Homo sapiens: one gene and its partners. The protein of the gene in region 5 purifies or fractionates together with the protein of the main gene of each other region. This does not show direct contact. Each region holds a gene or a part of one and is shown on either strand. Other genes may lie near its edges.

What was found.
Region 1: the proteins of SLC6A12 (region 5) and PIGX purify together in Homo sapiens (affinity purification with mass spectrometry; one large-scale study listed by BioGRID and IntAct). This does not show direct contact.
Region 2: the proteins of SLC6A12 (region 5) and JPH1 purify together in Homo sapiens (affinity purification with mass spectrometry; one large-scale study listed by BioGRID and IntAct). This does not show direct contact.
Region 3: the proteins of SLC6A12 (region 5) and DHCR7 purify together in Homo sapiens (affinity purification with mass spectrometry; one large-scale study listed by BioGRID and IntAct). This does not show direct contact.
Region 4: the proteins of SLC6A12 (region 5) and ESYT2 purify together in Homo sapiens (affinity purification with mass spectrometry; one large-scale study listed by BioGRID and IntAct). This does not show direct contact.
Region 6: the proteins of SLC6A12 (region 5) and PARP16 purify together in Homo sapiens (affinity purification with mass spectrometry; one large-scale study listed by BioGRID and IntAct). This does not show direct contact.
Region 7: the proteins of SLC6A12 (region 5) and RER1 purify together in Homo sapiens (affinity purification with mass spectrometry; one large-scale study listed by BioGRID and IntAct). This does not show direct contact.

Annotation. Positions count from the first base shown.
Region 1 is NC_000003.12:196,721,960-196,726,240, reverse strand, and holds part of PIGX (GPI alpha-1,4-mannosyltransferase I, stabilizing subunit isoform 2 precursor), read right to left. Parts: intron 3,827-4,281; coding exon 3,685-3,826; intron 1-3,684. UniProt on the Homo sapiens protein: Stabilizing subunit of the glycosylphosphatidylinositol-mannosyltransferase I complex which catalyzes the transfer of the first mannose, via an alpha-1,4 bond from a dolichol-phosphate-mannose (Dol-P-Man) to the glucosaminyl acyl phosphatidylinositol (GlcN-(acyl)PI) intermediate to generate alpha-D-Man-(1->4)-alpha-D-GlcN-(1->6)-(1-radyl,2-acyl-sn-glycero-3-phospho)-2-acyl-inositol and participates in the sixth step of the glycosylphosphatidylinositol-anchor biosynthesis.
Region 2 is NC_000008.11:74,255,128-74,259,408, forward strand, and holds part of JPH1 (junctophilin-1), read right to left. Parts: coding exon 4,258-4,281; intron 1-4,257. UniProt on the Homo sapiens protein: Junctophilins contribute to the formation of junctional membrane complexes (JMCs) which link the plasma membrane with the endoplasmic or sarcoplasmic reticulum in excitable cells.
Region 3 is NC_000011.10:71,441,760-71,446,040, forward strand, and holds part of DHCR7 (7-dehydrocholesterol reductase), read right to left. Parts: intron 3,200-4,281; 5' UTR 3,194-3,199; coding exon 3,096-3,193; intron 2,528-3,095; exon of another isoform or gene 2,457-2,527; coding exon 2,234-2,456; coding exon of another isoform or gene 2,198-2,233; intron 595-2,197; coding exon 504-594; intron 1-503. UniProt on the Homo sapiens protein: Oxidoreductase that catalyzes the last step of the cholesterol synthesis pathway, which transforms cholesta-5,7-dien-3beta-ol (7-dehydrocholesterol,7-DHC) into cholesterol by reducing the C7-C8 double bond of its sterol core.
Region 4 is NC_000007.14:158,759,802-158,764,082, forward strand, and holds part of ESYT2 (extended synaptotagmin-2), read right to left. Parts: intron 3,365-4,281; coding exon 3,282-3,364; intron 1,744-3,281; coding exon 1,695-1,743; intron 347-1,694; coding exon 257-346; intron 1-256. UniProt on the Homo sapiens protein: Tethers the endoplasmic reticulum to the cell membrane and promotes the formation of appositions between the endoplasmic reticulum and the cell membrane. Binds glycerophospholipids in a barrel-like domain and may play a role in cellular lipid transport.
Region 5 is NC_000012.12:207,084-211,364, forward strand, and holds part of SLC6A12 (sodium- and chloride-dependent betaine transporter), read right to left. Parts: intron 3,486-4,281; exon of another isoform or gene 3,122-3,485; intron 2,961-3,121; 5' UTR 2,904-2,960; coding exon 2,690-2,903; exon of another isoform or gene 2,674-2,689; intron 1-2,673. UniProt on the Homo sapiens protein: Transporter that mediates cellular uptake of betaine and GABA in a sodium- and chloride-dependent process.
Region 6 is NC_000015.10:65,279,603-65,283,883, forward strand, and holds part of PARP16 (protein mono-ADP-ribosyltransferase PARP16), read right to left. Parts: intron 1-4,281. UniProt on the Homo sapiens protein: Intracellular mono-ADP-ribosyltransferase that plays a role in different processes, such as protein translation and unfolded protein response (UPR), through the mono-ADP-ribosylation of proteins involved in those processes.
Region 7 is NC_000001.11:2,398,036-2,402,316, reverse strand, and holds part of RER1 (protein RER1), read right to left. Parts: intron 2,903-4,281; coding exon 2,803-2,902; intron 1,461-2,802; coding exon 1,382-1,460; intron 111-1,381; coding exon 1-110. UniProt on the Homo sapiens protein: Involved in the retrieval of endoplasmic reticulum membrane proteins from the early Golgi compartment.

The DNA of each region.
Region 1 (4,281 bases), on a different chromosome or scaffold from region 5:
TGGCTCACTGAAGTCTCAACCATCTAGGCTCAAGCAATCCTTCCACCTCAGCCTCCCAAGTAGCTGAGACTATAGACACACGCCACCATGCCTGGCTAATTTTTTGTATTTTTAGTAGAGATGATGTTAATTCTAACATCTGGGTCAATTCTGGATTGGTTTTAACTGATTGATTCACCTCCTCATTATAGGTCATTTTTCCCCCCATCCTTGCCTAGCTGCTAATTTATTATTACAGTCAAGAAATTGCTAATTTGATCTTGCTGGATATGTCTATATCCCTATACATATTCTTGAGCTTTGTTTGGGATGCAGATAAGTTACTTAGAAAAAGTTTGATATTTTTTTAAGGTTTTGTTTTTAAGATTTGTTATGCAGGACTAAAGCAATGTTCAGTTTGTGGCTAAGTATTCCCTGCTACTGAGTAAAAGTTCTCTGTTTTTCCATTGTTCAAGAAATTATAAGGCTTTTCTCAGTCTGGTTGCTGGGACGAGGTACTACTCCTGTCCCTGTGTGAGTACCAGACACTGTTACCGCTCATTTTGTCAGATGGCTCTTTCCCTGGCATCAGGTAGTTTCCTAACATATACACACTGATAAATACTCAGCTACATACTTGAAAGGAACCTTCTGTTATTTCTGCAGTTCTGCCTCTATGACGTTCTCTCCCCTCTGGTACACTGTCCCGTGAATTCTAGTTACCTTGGCCTGCCCAGCATCTCAACTTTATCTCCTCAACTCAAAAAGTCCACTAGGCTCTGCTTGAGTTTCTCCTCCCTGCATTAAGCCTGAAAATATTCTCAAGGAAATAAGCTGGATGACAGTAGGGCTCACCTTACTTACTTCCCTTCTCTCGGATATCTCTGCCCTTCATTGCCTGATATTCAATGACTTTTTTCATTATTTCATATATTTTGTCTATTTCTTGCTTGTTTCAAGTAAGAGACTAAATTTGTTACCTGTTCTCCACTTGACCAGAAGCAGAAGCCTTAATACTACATACTTTGAGTAAAACTTATGGTTTCAAAAACTGTTTCCATTTTGACCCACAAAACAGCAATTTTATACGTTTCAATCTAATATTATACTGCTTTCAAAGAATCTAAGAGACTTCTGATGAAAAAATATGTTTAATAACCCTACCTAAAAAAGTGAAATGAGGTTTATTTGATCTGCCTTATCCTTGGTGAACCTACTTAAGGCTTGCATTTATTTTCAAATTATTCACAAACCATCACAAACTCCTTACAAAGCATTTTGCTGGCACACCACTCATTTAATCTGGGCCCACAGTTCCATTTGTTGCAGCCAAAAATTTTATTTCCTGGAGCAGAGTCAAGACATTAATCCAGGTATACAAGCATCAATCAGTCCCTACATATAAATTCCTTCTACCCAGTTACACTTATTATATAATAACACTTAGCATAACAAAGTTTCTCTGTACGAGGAATTGGGCCATAATCTCAACTAGGCAGAAGGAATATGTCAGGCATCAAATTCCATATATTTAAACGTCACAAATGTAACATCTATTTTTCTAGAAGTTTCCAAAATAAAGAAGTAAATACACTTACAAGGCTTATAATTATGGATTAGAAGATTAGAAAGCAGAAAATCAAGATCAAGATAAACTTGTTAATCAATCTATAATGGCACTCTCTACCTGTACCCTTTTCTTCTAACAGTCAACCTTCAAACATCCAAATCTCATCCCCATCCAAAGATATGAATTTTTGGGTAACCCCCATCCAAAAAACTTTGATTTTCTTAGAACACGGTAAGTGATTTTATTAAGTAGATTTAAATATGATTCCAACCCATATCCTTACAAGCCAAAAACTGTGTTGAAATTTGAAATCTATTATTTTAAATTTGAATAGCCTCATTTAGAATTCATAATTCATTGAAGAAAAGAAATGAGATCCTTCTGGCCGGTGGCTCATGCCTGTAATCCCAGCACTTTGGGAGGCCAAGGTGGGCAGATAACCTGAGGTCAGGAGTTCGAGATCAGCCAGGCCAACATTGTGAAACCCCACCTCTACTAAAAATACAAAAATTAGCCAGGCATGGTGGCATGCACCTGTAATCCTAGCTACTCGGGAGGCTGAGGCAGGAGAACTTGAACCTGGGAGGCAGAGGTTTCAGTGAGCCAAGATTGTGCCACCGCACTCCAGCCTAGGCAACAGAGACTCTGTCTCAAAAAAAAAAAAAAAAACATTAAATTAAAAAAAAATGAGGTCCTTCCATAATTGTATGTGTATGTAAACTGTCATACATACACAAAAAACTGAGAACACACTTGCTGATTAGTGGTTGACACAGGCAGAATGTTATCATTGCATACCTTTTTATATCTACTCAATGAACCCATGAGAATGTAATTACTTATTCAAAAACAATTAAAATAAAATAAATGGATAAAGAAACTGGCCTAAACCACGATTAGAAATAAACTGCCATCATGAATAACTATAGATGCATCTATTTTACAGTTTTAAAAATTCGTAAGTAGATTATAATCTTATCAACTAAGACAGTGTCTCCCAAAATTTCTTAACAGAAATCACCTAGGTTACATATACCTACTGCGTACCCACAATAATTAAAAAAAAAAAAAAAAAGAAATCATCTGGGTTCTTCAAACCAGATTTTGGGGCCCAATCTAGGCCTACTGAATCAGGATTTCCCTGGAAGGCAATACTCTGTACAAAAGTGCCCCCAGGGAATTCTTACCAAAGTTGGGGAAACTTTTCTAACTACGGGGTAAGATTCAGGTCCAACAAGGGCAACAACATTACAACTAGACAATCTTGGATCCATTTTTTGGCTCTTCCAATTATCTATGTGATTTTGGATAAGTTACTTGGCCTCTTTGCGCCTCAGTTTCTTTTTTCTTTGAGACAAAGTCTCATTCTGTCACCCAGGCTGGAGTGCAATGATGCGATCTCGGCTCACTGCAACCTCCGCCTCCCAGGTTCAAGTGATTCTCCGGCCTCAGCCTCCCAAGTAGCTGGGATTACAGGCGCCCACCACCACACCTGGCTAATTTTTGTATTTTTGTAGAAACAGGGTTTCGCCATGTTGCCCAGGCTGGTTTCGAATTCCCAAGCTCAGGCAATCTGCCTGCCTTGGCCTCCCAAAGTGCTGGGATTACAAGCGTAAGACGCTGCACCCAGCCCTCAGTTTCCCTATATATAAAATGGAGATTCCACCTCCAGGGTTGTTATAAAGATTAATTTATGTAAAGGGTGCAGGACACGATCTTTCTTTTTAAAAGAAAATGAAGATATCTGGCATATAGACATCTATTAAATATTAGTTTCTTCTCCTCACATATCAAACTTACCCAGATGTTGGGGTATATGTCATTCTCATTAACAAAGTTACTGTTGAGGCACTATTTATTAATCATTAATTTTCTCAAGACATACACATACACCCAGATAATTTTCTTAGTCACTGAACTATGAACCACCTTAAAAAGCATTTAACTAGCTCAGTTTAGTTGGCTTATTCCTGACAAGAGTCACTCACTTGTCAAAGACTATGCCCAGTCTATCTCTAAAAATGTCACTTTATACACTTTAACAAAATGAAAAGAAAACCTACTATTTTTCCTTAATCCAAACTACAGCACCCCTAAATTAATTTCTCTCCCAAAAAATCCCCTAATAACTGTACCTCTGTTATGTTTCTCTCTCGTAATGAAGCCAACTCATACGGATCCACATAAAGTCCTGCAGGAATGTCCTGTTTAATTAAGAGACGGCAGGTGTGCAAGTCCTCAATGCTTTCCCCAAACTTCACTTTGATTAAAAGGTCTCTGTAAGACAAGTACATTGAAAGTAAATCTCTTCATTCAACTGTTAAATGAGATAACATAACACTGTATTCCTATTAGTGAAAACACTGTATTTCAAAATTCATTTTCCAAAAGTAGATTATAAGGTCAAATGAAATATTTATAACATGTCAGAATCATCCATTAGATCTTTCATAATTCATGTCATAAGCCACTATAGCATTATTGTAAAAATAGACAAAGATCAATGAAAAGGAATGGAATCCAATAACATTCACACAATTTTCAATAAAGGTACCAACGTAATTTAATGGGGAAAGGATAGTCTTTTCAACAAATGGCACTGAAACAACTGGATATTTACACAGAAAAAAACAGGCCAGAGGGCAGGCATGGTGCCTCATGCCTATAATCCTAGCACTTTGGAAGGCTGAGGCAGGTGGACTGCCTGAGCTCAGGAATTCGAGACCAGCCTG
Region 2 (4,281 bases), on a different chromosome or scaffold from region 5:
TACCTGACTTCAAACTATACTATAAGGCTACAGTAACCAAAACAGCATGGTAGTGGTACCAAAACAGAGATATAGACCAATGGAACAGAACAGAGCCCTCAGAAATAATGCTGCATATCTACAACTATCTGATCTTTGACAAACTTGACAAAAACAAGAAATGGGGAAAGGATTCCCTATTTAATAAATGGTGCTGGGAAAACTGGCTAGCCATATGTAGAAAGCTGAAACTGGATCCCTTCCTTACACCTTATACAAAAATTAATTCAAGATGGATTAAAGACTTACATGTTAGACCTGAAACCATAAAAACCCTAGAAGAAAACCTAGGCAATACCATTCAGGACATAGGCATAGGCAAGGACTTCATGTCTAAAACACCAAAAGCAATGGCAACAAAAGCCAAAATTGACAAATGGGATCTAATTAAACTCAAGAGCTTCTGCACAGCAAAATAAACCACCATCAGAGTGACTAGGCAACCTACAGAATGGGAGAAAATTTTTGCAACCTACTCATCTGACAAAGGGCTAATATCCAGAATCTACAATGAACTCAAACAAATTTACAAGAAAAAAACAACCCCATCAAAAAGTGGGTGAAGGATATGAACAGACACTTCTCAAAAGAAGATATTTATGCAGCCAAAAAACACATGAAAAAATGCTCATCATCACTGGCCATCAGAGAAATGCAAATCAAAACCACAATGAGATACCATCTCACACCAGTTAGAATGGCGATCATTAAAAAGTCAGGAGACAACAGGTGCTGGAGAGGATGTGGAGAAATAGGAATACTTTTACACTGTTGGTGGGACTGTAAACTAGTTCAACCATTGTGGAAGTGGGTGTGGCGATTCCTCAGGGATCTAGAACTAGAAATACCATTTGACCCAGCCATTCCATTACTGGGTATATACGCAAAGGATTATAAATCATGCTGCTATAAAGTCACATGCACACGTATGTTTATTGCAGCACTATTGACAATAGCAAAGACTTGGAACCAACCCAAATGTCCAACAATGATAGACTGGATTAAGAAAATGTGGCACATATACACCGTGGAATACTATGCAGCCATAAAAAATGATGAGTTCATGTCCTTTGTAGGGACATGGATGAAGCTGGAGACCATCATTCTCAGCAAACTATCACAAGGACAAAAAACCAAACACCGCATGTTCTCACTCATAGGTGGGAATTGATCAATGAGAACACATGGACACAGGAAGGGGAACATCACACACCGGGGCCTATCATGGGGTGGGGGGAAGGGGGAGGGATAGCATTAGGAGATATACCTAATGCTAAATGACGAGTTAATGGGTGCAGCACACCAACATGGCACATGTATACATATGTAACAAACCTGCACGTTGTGCACATGTACCCTAAAACTTAAAAAAAAAAAAAAGAACTCAAACAAATTTACAAGAAAAAAACAACCCCATCAACAAGTGGGCGAAGGATATGAACAGACACTTCTCAAAAGAAGACATTTATGCAGCCAAAAGACACATGGAAAAAAGCTCATCATCACTGTTCATTAGAGAAATGCGAATCAAAACCACAATGAGATGTCATCTCACACCAGTTAGAATGGCGATCATTAAAAAGTCAGGAAACAACAGAATAATGCAGTTTTAAACTAAACAACATAAGATTTAATTAAGATGGAAAATATCTGAAAATACTGCCAGCTCCTGAAAATAGGTAATTTGCCATGGAAGCGTTCAACATGTAAGCTATGACAGGCATCTTTTATTCCAGGGTTAACAACTTCTATGCACGAACACATGCATTCCAAACAATGGAGACTTTTATATCTGAGATATGTAAATTAAATGGCCAGCCTAATTTAGAAGTACTTGAAAGCCCTTTTCGAAAATGTCTATCTGATTTGCTCACCCTGTAAATGCAAAGTGGAGAGCATGAGTTATGCTCCCTTAAGAAGATCAATAATACCCGCGACAGAAAAGGCTTTCTATACAGTTGCTGAAGAAAGTGCTGGCTGTGTGTCAAAGGGGACTGCAGCCTCCCCGACAAGCTCTGGTCTCAAATAGACCCGCTGTCGTCCATGCTACTGTGATGTATTCATTCCTGACGGACAACTTGCTTATATGAAGCTGTTTTAGCTAAGAAAGGGTGGCATTACATTTTCCCACAATATTTTTTTTCCCTTCAAATGCTTTTACACCAGAAAAGGCTTTTAAAACCATTCAGTCTGGGAAACCAAGATGATCTTTCGTATCATTTACCTCTTGTTAACACCTGATAGAAATCTAAAGGGACCCCATTCCCCAACAGAATTAACAGAACCAAGAAATTACCATCTGCAGACAACAGTAAGTTTGTTTGCTTTCAAAGCCGCTCAAGCCCAGTGCCTCCTGATCAGTCAGGTTCTTTCCAATGGCAGCACTGCTAGGGAGGAGAGAACAATTTCTCCTGGGTGGCTGAACCCTTTTCCCAGCTCTCACGCCCTGGAACAGCTAATTTGCCAATATACGTAGGTACCAGGGAAGTATGAGTTCATTTCACGCCAGAGGAGAGTTTATTCCTACCAGAGGTCGCTGCAAAAAATGGAAAGGTTCCTTTTCCTAAAAATTGCATATATATAAAAAATGATTTAAATCTCAACCAGAGGTTTAAAAGAGATGCGTGTGAAAGAAAATACCCTTCTCAGTGGTTGCCTTGGACTTGAACTCTTAGAGAAGTCACTCTGTGATGATGATATCTATCATTCAACAACCACCTTGGGTCCCTCCCCAGCCTTTCTCTTATAAAAACCGAATCTTCTTTGCCTGGCCTTTTACTGTCTTCTTTCTTTGCAGGAACCTCCTGCCCCCATTCTCCAGGTCATTTCTCATTGCTCCATCCTTGATTATAGCCAAGTTTCTAGCTTTTCTACAAATCTTGCTATTTTGTTCACTTTGACTTACATCGTTCGTTAGGACTCAGTGATACCCTGTGGGTTCCGACAGCGTATACCCCTCACCAGAGCCAAACATGAATCGAACACCTACCTCATGCAGGGTGCTGGGCTAGGGACAGGATGCTAGTTATACAGCTTGATTTAATAAAAACCAGTGTGGAAAAATCCTTTACCAAGAAATGTAACTTTTAACATAAATTGAAAACATTTATTTTGGTTTCTTCACCTAGAAATCTGTTGATGCCTCAAACAATCACGGAGAATATATATAAATAGGTGAATATTGCCTTTTTGAAACTCAAAACAAAAACACTAGTATATTATAGAGAGGGGTAGAAAGAGTCTACTAGGAAACTACTAGAAAGTGAATTAAGAATTTAAACTATTGCAAATATTTGTTGATTGCTATTTTGTAACATCTGAGAGGCAGATGACCAAGATCGATTTTTTTGAGGTTGTCACTTTTATTTCTTCCATTGTGACATGCATTTTCCTCTTACTCTGTGCAGATTAATCTCTTTAAGTGGTATGCTGCTATACTTCCTAACCACAGTCCTTTGAACTTTGAACTTTAGTTCAGATACGTTAAAAAAAAGTCACAGTACTGACTGGCTCTTCTCTTACTACTAAAAGTGCCTCTGAATTTGGGGGTATTTGTTATAGAATCTGTAGCTGTCACTAAAATAATTTCTTAGAATCAGATATTTTAGATTCTTGTCTAGTTTACTGCTATCAGCTCAAACTTTGTTGGTCATATGTAGAGGGGAGGAAGGGTGAGACTCTGGGGAATAACCCATCTCCAGGGCTAACACTCAGACCTCGGGTGATATTTGTTACTACAAGTTGAACATTCCTAATCCAAAAATCTGAAATGCTCCAGAATCCAAAACATTGTGGGCACCGACACGATGCTACAAGTGGAAAATTCCACATGACCGATGGTCACAGTCAAAATGCAGTCAAAACTTTGTTCCATGTGCAAAATTATTAAAAATATACTATAAAATTACCTCCAGGCTATGTGTATAAGGTATCTATGAAACATAAATGAATTTCGTGTTTCAACTTGGGTTCCCAGCTCAAGAGATCTCACTGTGTACATGCAAATACAGAAAAATATCAACAAATCTGAAATCTGAAACACTTCTGGTCCCAAGCACTTCAGATGAAGGATCCTCAACCGCAGGCGCCCTTGCTTGTTTTGTATAATAGTACTGCTGGGATTCAGGAAGCACACATCTTTATGTTGAAAGGAAAAGGAAATAAAAGCAAGCCAAAGCCAGTGCTCCTGCCTCACCCATCAAAGGAGCACTGTTTTACCTGGTTGGTAGAAATCAGGTGACA
Region 3 (4,281 bases), on a different chromosome or scaffold from region 5:
TGGTATGCCTGGCCCCCTCTGTAATTGTTGGGGAGCACCTCAGCCCATCCACCCCTCAAAACAGGGAGCTTCTGGGGGCAGAGTTGGGATGCGGTTCCAGTCTGCACCCACGTGAGAGGCACAAAGCCAGGCTCCTCGTGGGTTCTCAATGATGGCAAGGAATGAACAGACAAGGTCTCCCACGGACAGCCCCGAGGAATGGTGGTCTCTGCATGGTGGTCTCTGCAGGAAGCTTCATGGGCCGAGTGCATCCCCTGCTATGGGGCTGGGAAGGAGCTGGGCCATCCATTCCCTCCTTACCCAGGAAAGTGATTTCTAACCTGGGTGTGGGATGGCCCCAGCTGCCCTCAATGGTTTTGAGGCCTGGTGCTGTGAAAAATCCAAGCAAAATGGATTTCTATCCTGTGACAAGTCTTAGGGACAAAGCAGCGCTGGGGAGGACTGGCCCCTGAGAGAAAGGGATGAGAACGGGAGCCTGGGGAGGGTGGAAGGGAGGAGGCTACCTGCAGGAGTCACGGCCCCCTCCTGGATGCCTCCTACGTAGCCGGGTAGAAACTTATGGCAGAAGTCAGGGAGAGACGTGTACAGAAGCACCTGAAACACACAAGCAGCCTGATCACCCCCCGCCTGGAGGGCACCTGCAAAGGGGGACGCATAGCAGGAACATGAGAATCACAATCATAGTCTTTTTCTTCCTGAAGCACTTATGGCTCCTGGAAGCTCAAACTGCTGGGCTGTGGGTTTTGAAGGGGGTTCTGAGACAATAAACTCATCAACCAGGGAAGGTGCCAAGGCGTTCTCCCCCAGGGCTCCATTCGCCCCTCAGGAGAGCGCACAGGTCCCTCCCAGTCACCTTTTTAAAATGGAGAATCCCATAAAATTCAACTTTTTATATATATATATAAATCTATCTTTGAGATGAGGTCTTGTTCTACCACCCAGGCTGGAGTGTAGTGGTGCAATCATAGCTCACCGCAGCGTTGTCCTCCTGAGCTCAAGTGATCCTTCCACCTCAGCCTCCCAAGTAGCTGGGATTACAGGTGTGCACCACCACACCCGGCTAAAATTCACCCTTTTAAAGTGCACAATTCAGCGGCATTTAGCGCATTTACATGGTTGGTTGTACACCTATCACTGCTAATTCCAGAACTTTTCATCACCACAGAAGAAAATGTTGTTCCAATCTCCGGTCACTCTGAATTCCCTGTCCCTGCCGCCCCTGGCTGCCACTGAGCTTTCTGCCTCTGTGGATTTGCCTGTACTGGGTATTGCATATAAAGGGAACCACACAGTATGCAGCCTCTGTGACTGGCTTCTCTCGCTCAGCAGTGTCTTCAAGGGTCATCCGCCTACTGGCATCAGAGCTTCATTCCCTTCCGCTGCCAAATAGTGTCCCACAGTGGGCACAGTGTTCTGTTCTGTGGGTCCATTCATCTACTGATGGACAGGTGGGGGTTCCTGCTTTGTGGCTATTTGTGATTCACACTGCCCCTGTCATTTTTCACTCAAAGGGACCAAGAGATCTGAACTGAGAAGTATTCTGGAGCCCAGAAGCTTGGACCCTGGGGAGAAACAGCTAATCATGATCTGAGCCTTCCTCCCGCCCAGGAAGGAAAACCCAGGCCTGTCTCTTTCTAGCACCGTTTCCCTGGAAACCTTTTCCTGGGTTCAGGCAATCAGCACCACCCATGTGTGCACCAGGTTTACAACAACCCCTTCCTGGAACTCCCTCTGGACTGGGAGGCCAGTGGGGACACCATGGAGCTGAGGACGTCCTGGACCTGCCTCGACTGCCTGTGGGGAAACATGGCCCTCGCTTCTCTGAGTGGCATCTCATGACTGAGAGAGTCCCTTTGGGGACTGAGATGCTCCTTTCCAGACCTGGTGCAAGGCGTGACTCCTGCTGACAATGGGGCTTCCTCAGGACAGCACTGCCCTCCCACGGGGTTTTGCTCCTATCCTCAGCTTGTCCCTGCAGAGCTGGGCGTGCCCAGCAACTGCATGCAGGCATGCCGTGAAGGTGTATCAAACGCTGATGTGACAGGTGCCTCCTGCCTTACAGCTGAGGATGAATCTGAACATGTCAGAGTCCAGGGAATGCCCTGCTGGGTCCCGGGAACCCAGATGTCAACCTGAGCCAGGATCCATGTCCCAGACAAATGGAAGGACTACCCCAGCAGGAGGGCACGCTCCCCACCTGCTGTGTCCCAACCCCAGGGCAGGGGCTGCTGACCTGGAAGGTGACCCACAAGGTATAGAGCTGGGCGGCTTTCCTCGTTATAGGTGGAGTCTTGGCCCAGATGTCCGAGAGCCGAGCATGTCCGGTGACGATGTCCACCACAGGGCCAGTCAGGGCGCAGCTGTACTGGTCACAAGCCATGATGAAGTAGTAGACGATGAAGGGGGCGAACAGCAGTAGGAAGATGACGCTCGCCAGTGAAAACCAGTCCACCTCCCTGCGAGGACGGATGCAGGCAGTCACACTGGGGCCCATCTGCCCTGGGCCCCACCAGGACCCTAAGAGGCTCTGTGTGGGAGAACTGTTGCTCAAACCCACCAGTACCCCATGACAGAAGGCATTAGCTCCTAGCACGGGCCCTCCTTGCGGCCAGGGAAGCCACTCAACATGCCTGCTCTACTGTAGTTGATTAACTGGTGGCACTATCTGTGGCCCCCATGGAAGGCCCAGAGCTCAGAATATGAGCGGAGGTAGGTCTTTCACAACCACCAAGGCCAGTGGTTTCCCCAGTTCCAGGTCGGAGAGGATACTCACCCTGCACGAAGTCCCCATGGTTCTATGGCGAAATGGGAGCTGTGACAATAGGTCATACCCCCAGATGGTGGGAAGGCCCCAGCTGCCCTTTAAGCCTTTATCTTTTTTTCTAAGTTGTTGACTGACCATGATTTCTAGTTTCTTTTTATAATTCCTTACTTTATAAAGTGGAAAACTGTTTACCTTTCATTAGTCTTGACAAAAAAAAAAAAATCTTTTTTAAAAAGGTCCTTCATTCCTTTGGGTCCATACAATTCCAAAGGCTGGAAAGCTCTGAGACCACACTTTACTTTCTAGCTGGGAGAACAGGCAAGATCCTTACCAGGCACGGCCCCACTGCCCTTGAGATGCGGTTCTGTCATTGGTGACGCCATCTAGACTCTTGGCTTTGGGAATGTTGGGTTGCGATTTTGCAGCCATTGGGCCCTGCAAGAAAGAGAACCTTGCTTACATTATCCCTCAAATAACAGACACCACCTTTCCCTGTTGCATCCACCACTGCTCCTGGGCCTGGCAGGGCTGGCCTCCTGTGCACATCTTCCCGGTACCTTGTTCCTGACAGCAGATTCCAGGCAGGGAAGAGATCATCTTGTCTTAGACTCTCTTCCTTGGACCCTGCAATCACCTCCCACGTGACCTTGCTATGGCTGCTCTTGCTAGTCTCAGTTCATTCTCCAAACATGGCAGAATGCCCCCCCTCTTACAGCACAAGCTGGCTCCTGCCTCCCTCCTACACACCACTCTCCCCTATTCTCCTTTGGCTCCAGGAACACAGGGGTCTTCACTCATCCTTGAACACAGTTTAAATTGTCTGTGGCACTGACTTCCTCTGCTTAGAGCACGTTTGCAGGTGTCCTTGTTCAGGGCTCATGTAAAATGTCCCCTCCTGGGGAGATCTTCCCTCTCAGCCAATCTGAAGCAGCTGCTCCCCAGCTTCCCTGCCAAGGCCCTCCACTGGGTACTTTATTTTCTTAGTAACTCTCCCCATCGCCTAGAAGTATTCATTTGTGTGTGTGTATTGTCTGTCTCCCCTCACTAGAATGTAAGCTTCCCAAGGGCAGGAATTGTGTGTCCTCTTCATTGTTCTACTACCAGGGCCTAGAACAGTGGCCCATGTAGGACCATCAATAATCACCCTTCAAAAAAAAGGGGAAGAGAACACAGAATGTCTCTAGGTACCCACAGCTGCTCTACATGGTTATAATTTGGGGGAAGCAGTGACATCCCCACTTCCAGAACAAGTTCATAACTGTGAAGCTTTAAAATATCTGAGATTTTTTAAAAGATGCTCTTGAAAGCTTTTAGAGAAAAAACAGGAGTAAAAATCACAGTAGGCTTAGATTTCTCAACAGCAAGCTGGATTCTAGAAGACAATGATGAAAAACTTCAAAATTTTGAGGAAAACTTTTTGCAACCTAGAATTCTACTCCTATGTGAACTATTACTCAAGGACAACAACATAGGATCCAGGAAACTGGAGACCCAAGAGAGCTGCTGAAGCCATGTCC
Region 4 (4,281 bases), on a different chromosome or scaffold from region 5:
TCTACAAATCCCTGCACTTTAACAAGCTCAAAACTGAAGATCTGATAAAACAGGTATGAAGGACCTATAAATTTCATTTTAAAAACTCCATTATCTTTAATTTATCCCTGATGCTACTGTAGTGACTTATTACACAATAATGAAAATTACTGCTATAATTGTTAAAAAATCAAGTAGCAACACAACTGAGAGACCAAGCTCAGTTATGAGGAGTAGTTGGTTAGGTAGTTTTCAAGAGCACATGCTTCAACAGCACCTTGTCGAGGTTTGACGCATTTGGCATTAACGTGAGCCACTCCAGTCTCAAGTGTAGCTTCCCCTTGGGAACCTCGTCCAGAGTGAACCACTGAAGAGAAAAAATGTTTACGTTCAGCAAAAGTTCTTCTGAATCAAAAATCCAAATTAAACCCAGTCTCTACAAATGTTCCATGCTGCTCACTAACCACGAGGCATCAACAGTTCTCAGTAACGCGAAGGCTGAGCCTCACCATATCCAGCTCTACGCTATGTGGATGCCAGTGACCTCACGTTTGGAGGCGATGGCAGCAACAGGTGTGAGCGACCATTCTAAGTGCTTTACACACACCAACCCCGTGACCCCGACAGAAACCCTAAGCAAGTACTAGTATCATTCCCACTTTACACATAAGAATTCAAATGTTTTCTAGCACTACCTAGAGACAGTAAAGTCTTCTATGAATAGACTTCTTTTTTTTGAGATAGGGGTCTTGCTGTGTTGCCCAGGCTGGGCTCAAGCGATCCTCCTGCCTCAGCCTCCCCAGCAGCTGGGACCACAGGTGTAGGCAAGCATGCTCCACCAAATGGCCTTTAACGGAATGTACAGGGTAAGAGGTAATACAACATTGATTCCAAATACTGAATTTCAGTATCAAACGATTTAATCTGTTTGTTCTAATTCATCACTCTATACTAATAAAATAGTATACAGTTGTATCAGCTTAAAAGTCACAAAATAATTAATCAAAGATGCTCCTCAAATGCTAAATGATAGAAGCCATGGGCAGGACTGTCCATCCAGTGCCTGGCACACCCAGGAAAACGAGATGTCACAGCCAATGAATGCTGAACACTCAAGGGAAGGAAACGTGTGATTACGAAAGCAGCAGAATTCAACACTTTTGTTTAATTTTGCTTCATTTATCTAAATCTTACCCTTCTTTTAGAAGCCACCACAAATGTTTCCTTTTTGATACTTTTTATTCTGATAGCAATAAAATGGTGGAAGTCGAGTCTCCTTGCCATGAGTTCCCACTGTCTCTACAGGCATCTCTCACGTGAGATGCCTCACTGGCCGCACTGTGCCTTCTCCACCATTCCCTCCAAACACCTGAAAATCTCCATCACTAGGGGGCATCTCGCACAGCCCTGCCCTTACTCCTGCAGGGGATCGCATATTTGTCTGCAATAACGTCAGTTTATGCTTCATATCCGTAAGGATTCCCAGCATATGGTAGGGACTCAACACGCACCTGAATGGACTCTTAAATTTATTTTTCATTTGCTATTTCTAAAAGGCCTAAATTCTTAGTATATGTTAAGTAAATGTTGTTCATGCCATACTAATTAGGATTCCGGCACTGTGTGATGGTGAAGGGGTGGTTCGTGGCTCCTCTGGCACAGGGCAGGGACTCAGTCAACAATTGTAAACAGACCCACACTCCAGGGAAACTTACTTCATCTAAAAGGCGCTCCTTTTCAACTTCAATGAGGTCAATCATAAGACTATAAAAATAACAATACGACAACTTTAGAACATAGAAACACATTTCTTACTGAAACAACTTTAAAACATAGAAAACACATTTCTTCCTGAAACAACCTTAAGCATTTGTCTATGAACAAGCACTCCAGAAATGCAACAAAACGCTAATAATTTATCAAGGAACAGACTATTTTTCCACAAGCTTCCTCCAGCTCACCCCCAGTGTCAGGAGAGTAAGGAAGAGTGAGGTGGAGTTTCTGTGAGCTCAGAATACTGAGTTTGGCCCAGCTGAGGTTAGAGCTGTAAAACAAAAACAAAAACAACTCATCTTCCCTACAATGTTACATGCATCAAAAAATGTTTGAAAGCATCTCAACCCTCTTATTTTACACGTCCTCTTGGAACGTCTTATTTTATACGTTCACTCACAACTCCAGTAGGGTTGTGCGTTACTGTGGATTCCTCACTCGCACAGTGAACGCTAACCTCACGTTCCCCCACCCTTGCTCCCAGGCTCTAGACCCATGCTGCATTGAGCCCGATGGACGCCCTCACTCGGTGCATCTGAGAGGAGGCCCATTCCCGTTCCCCTAAACCTCCCGTACTTCCAAGATTGGCACCACCCCCAGACGCCAGATACAACTAGATGGGATGATTATACTCCCACTTCTTCTTGTAGCCTCTTCTGCCCCCCACAATCTATGTCTACACCGCCTTCTCTCTGTCCTGGTCTATGACACACTCTCCTATTTGGTCTGCCAGTCTCTAAGCTCAGCCCCCGACAATCCAATCCACACAGTGATTTTCCTAGAATGAGCACCTGATCTATCCTGTCTGGCTTAAAATCTCTCAATTGTTCCTAGTTGTCCTGGGAAGTCTCATGAACTCTCAAGTCAGGCCACAACGTGCAAGGGCCATTCTTGATGAGGTATGAACCTCTCCAATGTATTCTATCCCTACATCTTTTTTGCCACAATTTAATTCAGTCAAATAACTTAATTAGGTTAAATTAATCAGAAATAATTGATATTAACAAATGGTGGTCAAACAATAACCATTTTAAAAGTTTATTTTTAAAGCTATACTAGTTGTTCAATTGAAGTGAACAAACCAGTATTTATTTTCCCAATGTGAATTACTATATCCTGACAAAAATTAATCCAGCAACTCAAAAAACTTAAAAAACCCATTTTTGCAATCTGGAATAGAACTGTCCACTAGAACTCAATACGGCGGCAGGTTCTGCATGTAGCTTTAAGCCTTGTAAACAAAGAGAGTGCCACTCAGATAGTTTTTAATTTATTTAACTTTAATTAACTTAAGGCTAGTGCCTGCTGTAATAGACAGCACAGATCTAGAAGACTCACTTCTCTTAAATGTGAAACTTTTAGGAATAAAAATGTTTTAAGAAATCCAAGGTGAAACAATTGTTATATCTAAGAACCATTTAATGAATAGACAACAAGTATACAAATGTATTTTAAAACATACTTTTGATTATTAAACAAAAAGACTGACCCCATGCCCTCCTCCAATAACCACAATGGGCTTTATTTACCTTCCTAAAAAGTCATCCTTGTCTGGGTCTTCATCAAAGAGCTCAATCTCTAATTCTTGTCCAGGATGTTCATACACTAAAGCCTAAAACATCAATGGTTAGTAGTTAAGTGCATTTTTACTAATATAGTCATACACTGAGTATGATATGATGATTGTAGTAAATATGACCAGGTACTTTTCTCTGGTGGTAAATCCTTATTTATTTATTTATTTATTTATTTATTTCTGGAGATGGAGTCTCGCTCTATCTCCCAGGTTGGAGTGCAGTGGCACAATCTTGGCTCACTGCAACCTCCGCCTCCTGGGTTCAAGCGATTCTCCTGCCTCAGCCTCCCAAGTAGCTGGGATTACAGGCATGTGCCACCATGCCCGGCTAATTTCTGTATTTTTAGTAGAGATGGGGTTTCACCATGTTGGCCAGGCTGGTCTCAAACTCCTGACCTTAAATGATCCACCCACCTCGGCCTCCCAAAGCGTTGGGATTACCAGTGTGAGCCACCGCACCCAGCCAGTAAATTCTTTTAGGACACTTATTTTTTTATTGTCAAGTCACACACACCTCTTGAGGACGGGAGGTCACTGAAACACCTGCCACACAGTAACAGTCTACCGTGCTTGTTTCTAGGGATCCTGGATTGCGTCTCAATAGATCAAGTTCAATCACTCCAACAAGGTCATGATACGTCACCCACAAGCTTGGTGCAAGGCATGAGACAGACCAAAGATCCAGGACACATCCCTCTAGTCCTGAAGTGGCTCCACTCAGATGCTATCTTGGAATAACCACGAGTTATCTGCTTAGCACCACTCAGGGTAAGAAACTGGCAAGAGACCAGACTCACAAAGGAGTGGGGGAGAGGAGTCGTACGGTGAAGTATAAACCGTACGACTGTTCTGAAGGGTAATTCTACACATACGTCAGTCCTTTAAAAACTGGTGGAGTATAAATCACACGACTGTCCTGAAGGGTAATTCTACAAAGATATTTCAGTCCTTTA
Region 5 (4,281 bases):
AGCGCGTTAGGGCGTCCTCTACCCTTGGGTTTTTAGAACGCTGACACTGCTACACCCTCCCCTCAAATTCCCTCATCAGTGCCTTGCTTTGGAAGGTTACCCTGCTTCATGTCTCCTTCGTGTCAGCCCAGGCTATGGGCACGGGCGGCCCAGCGATGTCGCACAGGGACCTTTACCAACATGGTGTGTCCCACAGGGACCTTTACCGACACGGTGCCCTGAAGCCTGGGGTTGGTGTCAACACCTCTACATTGTGCCTTACCTCTGCTGCATGCTCTTTCCTGAACCACTCACAACCCGGATAATGGGAACTTCCTAAAGTTCTCTTTTGAGGTGAGTGATTTCTAGTTCAGGGGCTCCCCTCTTTTTCATAACCAAAGCCCTCATTAGACCAATAGTTTTATTACTCTTTTTTGTTTCTTTTGAAAGATTTTTCTCTACAGAACTATGTTTACTAATTAATAATCAATAAATTTCCCTGCATATATTAATAAAATTATATTTAAGTGCCAATCAGGCCTTATGGTCAGCTTGATATAAACTTTATTATCACTCTGAGTTAGTACAGTTCAGTCTAAAGCAAAAAAATAAAAGACATTTGGACTAGTCTGTGACATCCTGTTTCCACATCCATCCATCATTAGGTTGTTGGAAATGAGAAAATGAATTCCTGGCCCTTCTTTACTACATTTCTAGACCCCCAAGGACCAGTGACTCCAGAAGGGGACCCCAACCTCATTTGGCCCCCTCATGTTAAAGATGAAAGAAAGGGTGTCTTTCCCAAGAGTTAGGCTGGGAAGGAGGTAACCGGATCCGATATTCCATAATGTTACTGCGGGTACTCATCTCTCTCTCTCCACCCCACCCCACGGCCAGGACAGAGGCCACAGCCACAGCAGCAGCCAGCATGACAGGACAGAGGCAGGGTGGGCGCCCGACACCGCGGCCCTGCCTCCCAGGCCCTAGTGCTGTCTCCCTCCCAGATGGCTGGGTGAGGAGTGTGCCGTGACGCAGAAATGGTTCCAAGGCCCTCTGCAGTCCTGGGCAAATCCTCCTCCACTAAAGGAGGGCTTAGTCTGAGCACCTCCATCTCCAGCCCTAACATCCTATATGCCATGAGATGGTGGCCCTGGATGAAGAAGGAAACCACCACCCTGCCCCTTCATCTTGCCTCCCCTGACTTTCTGGCCCAGGGTCAGCCTCAGCACCAGAGACTGAGCCAGCCCAAGAAAGCCTACCGCTATTTCTTAGGAGTTGTCAGTTCAAGCAGCTTGTGATCGCAACTATAAGGTTTAAAACACATAGCAAGATACACAGTAGACCCTCCGTAAATATTGGTCAGATTTAATATAAATAGTGTTTAGGAGGATTTTCTCAACAAATTATCTCTAAATGTGAGTATTCCTTTCTACCTTCCTGAAATGTTTCTAATATTTGCAATAAACATATACTGTTTCCACAAGAAAAATAAAAGTGATTTCAAAAGGCCAAAAAAAATGAATCTAACCACTCACAAAGGACGGCGCATTGAACGATTGTATTCCTGTGAAATAGCCCAAATAGGGATCCATCGAGATGGGCAGCACATAAGCGTTGCCAAGGGCTGGCAGGGAGAGGGAATGAGGAGCGACTGCGAATGAATATAGGATTTCTTTCGGGGATGATGAAAATGTTCCAAAAGTGGTTGTGGTGATGGCTGCACAATTCTGTGACTATACTAAAAACCACTGAATTGTGCACTTAGAATAAGGAACTGGCCCCTCCCCACCACTGCTAATTTTTACACCCAGTGCTGAAAAATAATAAAATCATGTTTCTCTAACTTGAAAAAAACTCAAAGGCAAGGTATTTCTCCAACCAAAATTGCTTCGGTGGCTCCCATCTCAGTCAGAACAGAGCCTGAGTGACCCCTGTGACCTGTCCAACCTCAGCCTGAGTGATCCCTGTGACCTCTCTGCCCTCACCCGGTTATTCTCTGCCTCTCTCATTCCATCCCAGCCACACCTGCCTCCTCACTGCTCCTCAGACAGGCCTGCAGCTTCCACCCCCAGGACCTTGGCACCTGCCGTTCCCTGTGTCAGAGTGTTCTCCATCCAGGATACATCCACGACACTCATGCCTTCACTTCCTTCAAGTCTGCTGAAATGTCACCTTCCCCTCTGCACGCCTAGCATTCCCTATCCCTCCTCCCTGCGTCACGTCTCACCCCTCCACTCATCACCATTTGACATAGACCACGCGGAACCGTTTGTCCGCAACCTGCCGCAGACACAGTACAACTCCTCAGAATCCTCCCACGGAGGGTGGCACACGGAATGTGTTCTGTTTTGCACCTAGCGCCGGGTCTGGCACGTGACAGGCCTGCAATCATGTTCACTGAATGAATGACTGAATTCTATCAATGATTGACCTTTACATAGTCATGAAGGAGCTTGTTAAAAACTAGAATTTCTTGGTCCTGCCCATTGCCCAGTTTCATCTTCACCGTCACCCTGGGAGGTATTGTCCCCATTTCACAGAGAGGGACGCTGAGGCTAGTAGTGGAGCTGGAACTCAAACTCAAGTCCTCCAATTCCAAAATAGCCCTCCTTTTATAAACCACACTGCCCAGGAAGGAGGGCCCAGGTAGGCACTGCCCAGCTGCCAGCACACAGCTCTCCCCACCATGCCTACCTCAAAGTGAACTCACCACCTCCGTTTTTGTAGCAGAGATAGGGAAACCTCCAGACATTGCCCAGCCCAATGATCTCCCCGGCCACTGACAGCACAAACTCCATCTTGTTGGTCCATTGGCCCCGATCCTTCACCTGGTCCTCGTCTTCCTGGTCCAACTTCTCTCCCTCCTCGGGGACCCAGGAGACTGCAGGAGGCCCACACTCTTGCACTGCCACCTTCCCGTCCATGGCTGTGTGGTGGGTTGGGAAGCCCCGCTGGGTGGGCAGGATGACGAGGGCCAAAGCCTGGTGGGAAGAGAAGAAATTAGCTGTAAAACCCGACATGCTCCCGCCAGCCCTGCTTTCCCATCCCGATCTCCGCTGTCAGCATATTGTTGTTCTTCCCAAGTGCTCCATGGCATTTACACCTAAAGTTCCAGTTCGTTCTCGTAACTGTAAGAGCAAACCTTAGTTTTCTGAGTTTGCAGATGAGGAAATCCAGGCCTTGGCAGATGAAGTGATTCACCCAAGACCACTCAGGAGTGGAACCGTGATGAAAACTCAGGCTCGGGCTTTTCATTTTCATGTCCCTTTTTATCTGTACAGCTCGCCACCATCCCAGCCGGCCCATCTGCCCAGGTCCTTGATGTCTGCTGAGTGACCTCAGCCTAGCCTCTGGCCTCCAGGTCAGAAGGGATCAAAGCCTGCCGAGGTAGCAAGGGTCAACGGGCAGGTGTGGCCGAAGTGACTGCATGGTTCTCTCCTAGCCAGCTGTGTGCTAAGGTGATCGATCAGCTCAGAGTAAACAGGGGAGCCAGCAGCTCTGGGCAGCTGATTGGGAGGAAAAGAGAAGGTGGGGCCTCTGAACAAGGCCAGATGACAACAACGATTGGCACCAGGGGCAAGTGTGAGCTTTCGAGGGAGCCCCAGCTCCTCTTCTCTCTGTTGTATCTCTGTCCTGAGAAAAACTAGGGGGCCCTGGTGCCAGAAGGGATCACCAGACCAGTTCTCACCTGGCTGGCAGTCACCTCCGGATGACCCCCAAGGTGACCAAATGACGGGCTCCTCAAAAGGGAGGCCCAGCAGTGGCTGCCCCTCTCAGCAGGTCACTGCCCTTCCCTTCTCCCTGCCCTCCTAGAGAGCCCAAAGCTCCCTAGACCTCCAGAAAAGTGACGTGGGGCATTCTTAGTTCTACTCTCTGTCCCTTGGCCTGCTTGTCAACTGCCAGGAGACAAATCCGCTTCTGTCAGGGTGTATCTCCAATCTATGTTTGCCTTCTCCTCCCTCTCATACACACAAACAATCGCCCTGAGGCCACCTCTGCCTTTATTCCCAGGAATTGCCAAGAGGAGGTGCCCCAGGCTGTAGAGGGGAGCACCCATCCCGCAGCCCCTCACCTCTGAGGGGTATTGAGGGAATCAAAGCGACCAGGTCTACCAAGTGCCCCACGCTCCTCCAAGGCTCTAGAGAAACAGGGATTCTTTTTATTAAGGAAGAGTCTGTGTTTATTTACTGGTCCTTTTAACCCAGGCAACAGCCCAAGCCCAAGTCAGTTAGAAAGGCGTGGGCAGGAGCCATTTGAGGTAATGGAAATTTTTGAAGGTGACTTGGAGGGTGCAGGTTATCC
Region 6 (4,281 bases), on a different chromosome or scaffold from region 5:
GAGGAGCAGAGAAATAAAAAGGTAATCTGAGAGATCAAGAATCTTACCTTGAGATATCAAGTATAGACCTAATAGGCACTTTTATTATTAACAAATCTAATTGTTATCATTTCCTCACCATCCAGCAGGTATGGGTGCTCATGAAAATGATCAAATCAGTTACTAGAAAAATAGAAAAGCTACATATTATCTGTAAGGAAACAAACAAAAAATCTCAATGCCAAGGCTGCACTTTAAACCAATCAAATGAGAATCTCTGAGGATGGGGCTCAGACGTCAGGGTTTTTTTTTTTCCTTAGTTTCCCACGTGATTTCAATGACAACCAAGGTTGAGAGGCTTGTAAAGAATGATCTTTCCAAACCGGGCTCAATGACACAACTCCTGCTTGAGACCAGGAGTTTGTAGACCAGCTAGGCAACATAGCGAGACTCCTGCCTTTTTTCTTTTAATCCAATAATAATAATAATAACGATCTTCCCCAGTTAATGTCAATATTCAATTTCCAATATGGAAATAAGCATCGAAAGCCTTCCTTAGAAAGGTTAGCCATGAGCCAGGTGTGGTGGTTCACGCCTGTAATCCCAGCATTTTGGAAGGTTGAGACAGGCGGATTGCTTGACTCCAGGAGTTTGAGACCAGCCTGGGCAACATGGTGAAACCCCATCTCTACTAAAAATACAAAAATTAGCCAGGCTTAGTGGTATGTGCGTGGAGTCCCAGCTACACGGGAGGCTGACGTAGGAGGATCGCTTGAGCCCGGGAGGCAGAGGTTGCACTGAGCCAAGATCACGCCACTGCACTCCAAACTGGGCAACAGAGCAAGAACTCGTCTCAAAAAAAAAAAAAAAAAAAATTAGCCATGGACCAGCAATTTCACCTCTCAGAATGTATCCAAGAAGACAACAACAGATATAAACAATGATTAATGTAGAAGGATGTTTATCAAAGTATTATTTATAAAAGCAAAATTTTAAAATTATAAAGAAACCCAAAAGAAGGACTCCTAACTGCTAGGGAGTGGAGGCACAGAATAAGGTGGAAATTTCACGTGTATCTTAAAGGATGAGAGGGAGTTTGCTTCAACAAAGATGGAAATGGCATCAGGAGGGCTCAGGACAGAGAGGAGCTTATATGCGCTTTAACCCAGACACTGGGGAGTCATGGTGTCTAGACAGTGCAAGCCAGAAACCAGAAAGAGGGAGGAAAAAAAAGAGAAAGACTCCTTACTCCTCCAGGACCAGGAGGCCCAATTAGAGCAGTTTGGCACCCCAAATGAGAACAGGGTAAGCTTCATGCAGTGCTTTTCAGACTTCACTATGTGTACAAATTGCCCAGATTTGTTAAAATGCAGATCCTGACTGGATAGGTCTGAGGCAGGACCTGCTTTTCTAATGAGCACCCAGGTGAGGCTCATGTTGCTGGTCCTCAACCACACTAAGCAGCGAGGGCCTGGAGCTAACACAAAGAAGCCATTCCCACACACTTCCCACCCCCAGAAAGGGTCTACAGGCTAATGGAGAACCAGAACATGCTATTTCGGGAGGGAAAACAGAACAAAAAACTGTACAGCTGCGACTGTGTCAAGTGACAAACCTGAAGTTCGGAGGCCAATGGTTAAGGGGTACAGGGAATCCCAAGAATGTTACAGGTTCTCTCATCCAACCCTGGTCCCAAAAAGCAAGGTGAGAAATCCTGAGCCTGGGTATTCAGCACACGCACAATGTGATTCCTCAAACATTTGATAAGTACTTCCCAGGCCAGGCACTGGAAATACCAAGAGCTCCCAGTGTAAAATCAGAGAGCTGGCCAGGCACGGTGGCTCATGCCTGTAATCCCAGCAGTTTGGGAGGCCGAGGAGGGCGAATCACCTGAGGTCAGGAGTTCAAAACCAGCCTTGACCAACATGGTGAAACCCTATCTCTACTAAAAATACAAAAATTAGCTGGGCGTCATGGCATCTGCCTGTAATCCCAACTACTAGGGAGACTGAGGCAGGAGAATCGCTTGAACCCAGGAGGCAGAGGTTGCAGTGAGCCGAGACCGCGCCATTGCACTCCAGCCTGGGCAACAAGAGGGAAACTCCATCTCAAAAAAAAAAAAAAAATCAGAGAGCTTATCAGCACGAAAATGGTCTCAAAACAAGACACCTCAGGGATAATTTGGGACTTTGAGGACAGTGGTAAGATAAGGCTAGATCAGACCTAAAGCCAAGAGCTTGGTTCAGCAGTGGGGAGTTCTCAGGAAATCACCAATCAATAAAGTAATTTAAGGCACAGGTCTAATTTTTGGAAACTGCAACCCTTGTGTTATAGGTGTGTAATAACACCTCACAGTGTGGACAAAGATTTAAATGACTGAAAATGGTAAACTTTCACATTACTTCCTAGTGCTTTTAGCTGAACAAATGAAAGTGAGAGACTTTTTTTGAGACAGGGTCCCACTTTGTCACCCAGAATGGAGTGCAGTGGCACAATCACGGCCCACTACAGCCTTGACCTCCTGGTTCAGGTGAACCTCCGACCTCAGCCTCCCAAGTAGCTGGGACTACAGGCGTGCACCACCACACAGGCTAATTTTTTGTAATCTTTTTATAAAGACAGGGTTTCGCCATGTTGCCCAGGCTGCTTTCAAACTCCTGGACTCAAATGACCCGCCCCAGCCTCCCAGAGGGCTGGGATTACAGGTGTGAACCACCGTGCCCAGCCAAGAGACTTTTTAACAGCTCCATACTTTCCTTCTTCAGGTAACTACAAAATGATCTAGCCAGTCCATTCCAGACCTGATTCCCTTTTCTTTAAAAGTTAGACTTTGATTCAGATACAGATCCAGATGCCCAGTTCTCTGCATCATTTCAGTAACTCATGTGACGTGGCAAAACGAGGCCTAAAGTGTGTGTTTATCTAAGAATGTATGCATGTCCCCAGAAATGGTGCCAGGCCCCACCTGTGAGCAGTCTTGCTGCTGACGGCCATGCCTACAGACAGCCAAGAATCTATGTAGTCTGGGCTATTTTCCTCAACAATGGTGCCCTATAAGGAATATGGCAACAGAAATGGATGGTAAGAATGCGTGTTTCTCCAGTAGCCCTCAAGAGAAAGGGTAACTATCTGGGACTGGTACAATAAACCCCATGGGAGGGGCAGTCTGTCTCTATAGAGGAGGTGGCTTTTTGGGGCAACCTACGTTGCTGATGCTCTCTTAAGGGATTACAAGTGGGGCAAGGGAGAAGGGGGAGGATGGGCCCCAAACAGAGCAATTGATACCTTTGCAGAGGGGTGAGGGATAGAGTGAGATCTATCAGGGGCACTTTTACTTTACTGGTATCATTTGAATTTTTTATAATGAGAATATATTCAAACATTACCTGCATAATTAAAAATAAATTTTAAAAAGCATGATCAAAACAACTCCACAAGCCCCTTTGCATGTATCCCATATTCACCAAACAAACCTGATTGCATTCGCCAAGACCTTCCAGCAGAAAGAAAATAAGTTCCAGATTCTAGTCCACTTAGAGATATGTTTCTTGGTAAAAATTAAAGCTGCACTGTGGCCAAGTGCAGTGGCTCAAGCCTGTAATCCCAGCACTTTGGAAGGCTGAGGTGGGAGAATTGCTTGCGCCCAGGAGTTCAAGACCAGTCTGGACAACGTTGTGAGACCCCATCTCAATTTTTTTTTTTAAAAAAAGCTGCATTGTGAGTTTGATCCCTCTGACCCCAAACACTCCTCCCAAACAGGTCCCTCTCTCACCCTGCCACCACAGGTGTCTTTCTGGATCTCACCTCTATACCCTCCCCTGCCCAAGGATAAAAATCTCCACAACTTAGCAGGGCATGTGTAGCCTTGCATGCTCCATAGGCTGGCCTCATCTCTTCCTGTTCCCCACAACAGTCACACTAAATCACAGTCTTGTCCTTCTCTGTAAGCTCACACCTCCTGGCTGACCATCCTGCTACTCCTCCTGGAATACTCTTTCCCTCTTCTCTGCTCTTGAAGTTCTGCCTTGGGACTTGGCAAGGCATCAGCCTCCACCCCTAGATGGTGTTCCCTGAGCCTGGCCCAAAGCTGAGAGCTAGGGGGTGTCCTTGCTCTGGGCTTCCATGTTGTACGGCGCTTACCTAGTATGAGAGGTTAACACTGTTAACCTCTCCACGGGTTAATCCTGTATCCTTAGCACCTGTCCCATAGCAAACACTCCATAAGTATCTGTTGCCAAAACTGAATGAAGTTTCGTACCCAAGGTCCTGATACACCACACTCAGAAAATTGAGTATCTGAAC
Region 7 (4,281 bases), on a different chromosome or scaffold from region 5:
AGAAGAGCATGATGAAGTACATCACCAGAATCGGCCAGAACACCGGGACGTTGAAAGCGTCGAAGAAAGTACAGACCATAGCCACAAGGATGCCCTTGGTAGCCGCATGCCTTCAAGTGGGGAGAGAAGGTTAGCGCCGCATCTGCAGCCAGCACCGGGCACCTGCCGGCCGCCTCCAGCCTTGCAGCTGCACCGACCGTCCCCGCAAACAGAAGCATCCCTGTGGAAAGGAGGGGTCTACCCTGGGCACAGCAGCAGCAGGACCCTTTGCATGTAGCTCACAGACATGTACTGCCCTAACCACAGAAACATCCTTCTCTTACTCCCTTGAAAGACACAATTCTTCTTAAAACTACACAAAGTATAAAGCATCAGTACTGAGGCTGGGGGCCCCATGCCTGCTGGCTGGGCCTGCGATCTGGAGAGAAACCCAGGCTGTGTCTTGTGGACCATCCAGGGCCTTCACCTTGTCACTGTGGCATGGCCACCAGTGCTCCCTCCCGTCCCAGCACATGGCCAACAGATGCCACGGCCCTGGAGGCTCAGCTCTCCCTTCCTAGTCCAAGCTTCTGGTGGCTTCCAGGGCCCCTGATCTTTCTGTACCACACTCCATCTGCGGCTGCAAAGTCAAGGCGTGGAGCCCCACGAGCTCAGCAGGCTCCTTCAGTTTACTGATCTAACAGACTTGGGTTCCTCCTGTGCTCCCAGAGTGGGGTATGAGGGACAAGACAAACGGATGCACACGCTCCCGTCCCTCTGACGGCTGCACCACCCACCTCTGCCTACCCGTGCAGACACGGACACCTCGGCTCAAACCCCTCTCAAAAATGACTCCAGGAGAAGGCTAGTCCCTCTGCCAGCCAAAAGGAGCCACAAGGCTGGGGATGGGAGAGAGGAAGGAGGAAGGAGGGAGGAGGAGGGAGGAGGAGGGAGGAGGAGGGAGGAAGGAGGGAGGAGGAGGGAGGAAGGAGGGAGAAGGAGGGAGGAGGAGGCAGGAAGGAGGGAGGAGGCGGCAGGAAGGAGGGAGGAAGGAGGAGGGAGGAGGGAGGGTGGAGGAGGGAGGAAGGAGGGAGGAAGGAGGGAGGAAGGGAGGAGGAGGGAGGAGGAGGGAGGACAGAGGGCCTGCCCTCCCCAGGCCACAACCACAGAAGCCGGTGCGCACTCCATCCCAGACTCAACCTCCAGGGCACTGGTGCTGACTTGAAACCAAGAGAATGCGGCAAGGTAGTGAGTGGCCTTCTACAGAGAGCCCCTGCGATTCCCCGTGCCCAGCCCAGCACAGCAGTCATCTTTCAGGTGACTTGAACAAAAATCAGTGTAGTCTCAGTCTCAGCCACCCTTGAGCACAATTCTCTTCAAATACCGTGAAGAATTAGCTCACCAAAATTTAAACTCTGGGAGCCTTCGAATGAAGGGGCGGAATTCCTCGTTCTGTTTGGTGGGTAGCGAAGGACCGTCATCTGTAAGGCAGAGCAACCATCAGGGAGGGCACCTCTTTTCATTCCCATCACAGTTCTACCTTTTCCCCTCAAGGCTTTGGACTAGCAGGCCTCACAAATCTAAACCGAGATTCATGTCATTTAACCAGAGAAAACGAGAAAACGGGGGTCTGTGGTCAACTGACACATCCAATTCACTGCTTTCAGAAGGTGCTATCAGAATGTTTTTAGACTTCCACACGTTTTCAATGCACGAAGAATTCAACCACATATAAACATCCAGGAACACGTCAGCTGCACCACGTAAAGGCACAGAAGAAAACAAAGGCAAATTAACATAAAAAGCAAGCGGCAGAGAACAGGGCGGGGCCGAGGATGCGCTGACCGTGGAACCCGGGCGCCAGGCCTGTCCCACCAGCAGCTGTGCCAAGCCCACTCTCACCCCGCCTCCCCCACTGGGATGGGTGCCGCTCCCCATTTACAGATGGGAAAACTGAGGCCTACAGGAAAGGGGCTCTTTGTTATTTTCTAGTCTCCTCCAAACAGCAACAACAGAGAGGGGCTGTGTTCCCAGCAATCTTTTCATCACATATCCTACACAGAAGACTCACAGGCTTCTGGCCACACAGTGAGAGCATACCCTACTCCCTGACAGCAGGTTCCCCCAGAACGAGGAGGGTCCTGGCAGGGAGCTGCGTGTGGGTTTTCCCTCAATGGCCACCACGTCCTGGAATGCAGTTGTTTGTTCCTCGCCTGGGGCTGGCCAGTCAGGCATGAACTCAGGGCCCCTACCTGGCCCAGGCAGGCCCAGGAGCTGCGTAAGTCTTCCAATAGTGGAGCACGAAGCACCAGGAACACTTCAGCTCACAGCTCCTCAGAAACCAGAGAAGGCCGCCCAAAGCCTGACCCGACCCGATGCTGGCATTAGAGTCCCGGCGGTCTCTGTGCACCACAGTGAGCTGCCTGTGGAACCCTCTGGCTACGGGAAAAGGTAACCTCGTCATGGCTGCCTCCGCTGATTCTGAGAGGGACCACTGACTGGGGTGGGACGGGGGCTGGAGTCGGACTGTCCACCTCAGACCCCTACTGTCTGTGGTGCCATGTGACCTCGAACACGTTACCTAACCCTGTATGCCTCAGTTTCCTCATCTGCAAAGTGGGAAAACAGAATGAACACCCACTTCGTGGCTGTCAGGAGGGTTTGAAGAGTCATTCTACAAACATATCCTGATCACCCAACATTACAAGTACATTTCAACCCCAAGAGAAGAGTCTCGGGTGTTTCCAGAGAACACTGGGCAATCCCATCAGAAAAGAAAGGCCCAACCTGCCCACACAGCCCAGTGCACAGCCGCTACCCTACCTGAGTCTTCCATTAAGGAAGGATCCACTTTGGGAGAAAGAAAAGCTATGAAAAGATTTAGATGGTAGATCCCCAAGGCATAGGTCACAATGTACCAACCCTGAAAGAGAAGGAAAGAGAGTCAGTGGTGCACTCTGACCGTCCATCAGCCTGAGCCAGTTCACGTTTGCACTCCGGTTCACTCTCAACTTTGTTAACTGATCTAACTTTGTTTTAACACAAAACTTACTCATAGCAAGGACAAGGAAATACAGTGAAATCCCATGGTAACAATTTATCTCAAATTATACTCTGTGGGAACAGAGACAAAGCGGACAAGCAAGGGCCCAAATGAGCAAAGCTCTTCAAGGGTCCAGTTAGACACATGTGATCCCTGAAGCCACAGACGCCCCACAAGGAGCGCAGCAGAAAAGGAGGCTTTTCTCAAGAAGCACATGCTCAAGCTACACCACAGGCTCGGGTGGCCCGGGCACCTGAGCGATGCTGGCCCAGAGCCCCACCCAGGAGCAGCTTCATCAGAAACAGAAGACAGACTCTCAACTGTGACTGGAGGCGTGCTGGCTGATGTTCCTCCAACAGACAATTCACATTGCCAAAAACACTCTGCCAGGAGGGTTAAACCTTTGCCCAGAAGAAATCCACAACTGGGAAATCCAGAAAAGTGTGCTTATGCCAAGCCTTCCTCAAGAGATGAAAAGTGGGGAGAATTTTGGCAAGATGCCTGAGTGCAGCACACTTATTTGCAACTAATTCATTTTTTAAAATGATTAAGCATATCCCGTTAAAAGCCAGAACCGCATTCTCAATTTCAAAAGCCTTAAATTTCTGTCGGGTGTGGTGGCTCACGCCTGCAATCCCAGCACTTTGGGAGGCCAAGGCGGGTGGATCACCTGAGGTCAGGAGTTCAAGACCAGCCTGGCCAACATGGTGAAACCTCGTCTCTACTAAAAATACAAAAATTAGCCAGGCATGGTGGCACATGCCTGTGATCCCAGCTGCTCGGGAAGCTGAAGTAAGAGAATCACTTGAACCCAGGAGGTGGAGGTTGCAGTGAGCCAAGATCAGGCCACTGCACTCCAGCCTGGGCGACAGAGTGAGACCCCATCTCAAAACAATAAATAAAAATATAAATGCTTTAACTTTCTTATACAAACAAGAAGTCTTTCTGCCTAAAAGCTTTTCCAGTCAGACGGCTGAACGCCAGATGTGAGGGCTAACTGATGTCTGTGTGTCCATCCCTGGCTGAACGCCGGATGTGAGGGCTAACTGATGTCTGTGTGTCCATCCTCGGCTGAACGCCGGATGTGAGGGCTAACTGATGTCTGTGTGTCCATCCTCGGCTGCAGGGCCACACCTGAAGAGACGCCAAATGAGGCACGAGCTTGGTTTCGAACGCAATAAAACTGACCTGTGGGTGCTGCACTCTTCCCGCCCCCTGCTCCTGCCTGAAGTCCCTGATTCAAGATTTCTAGGTCATTC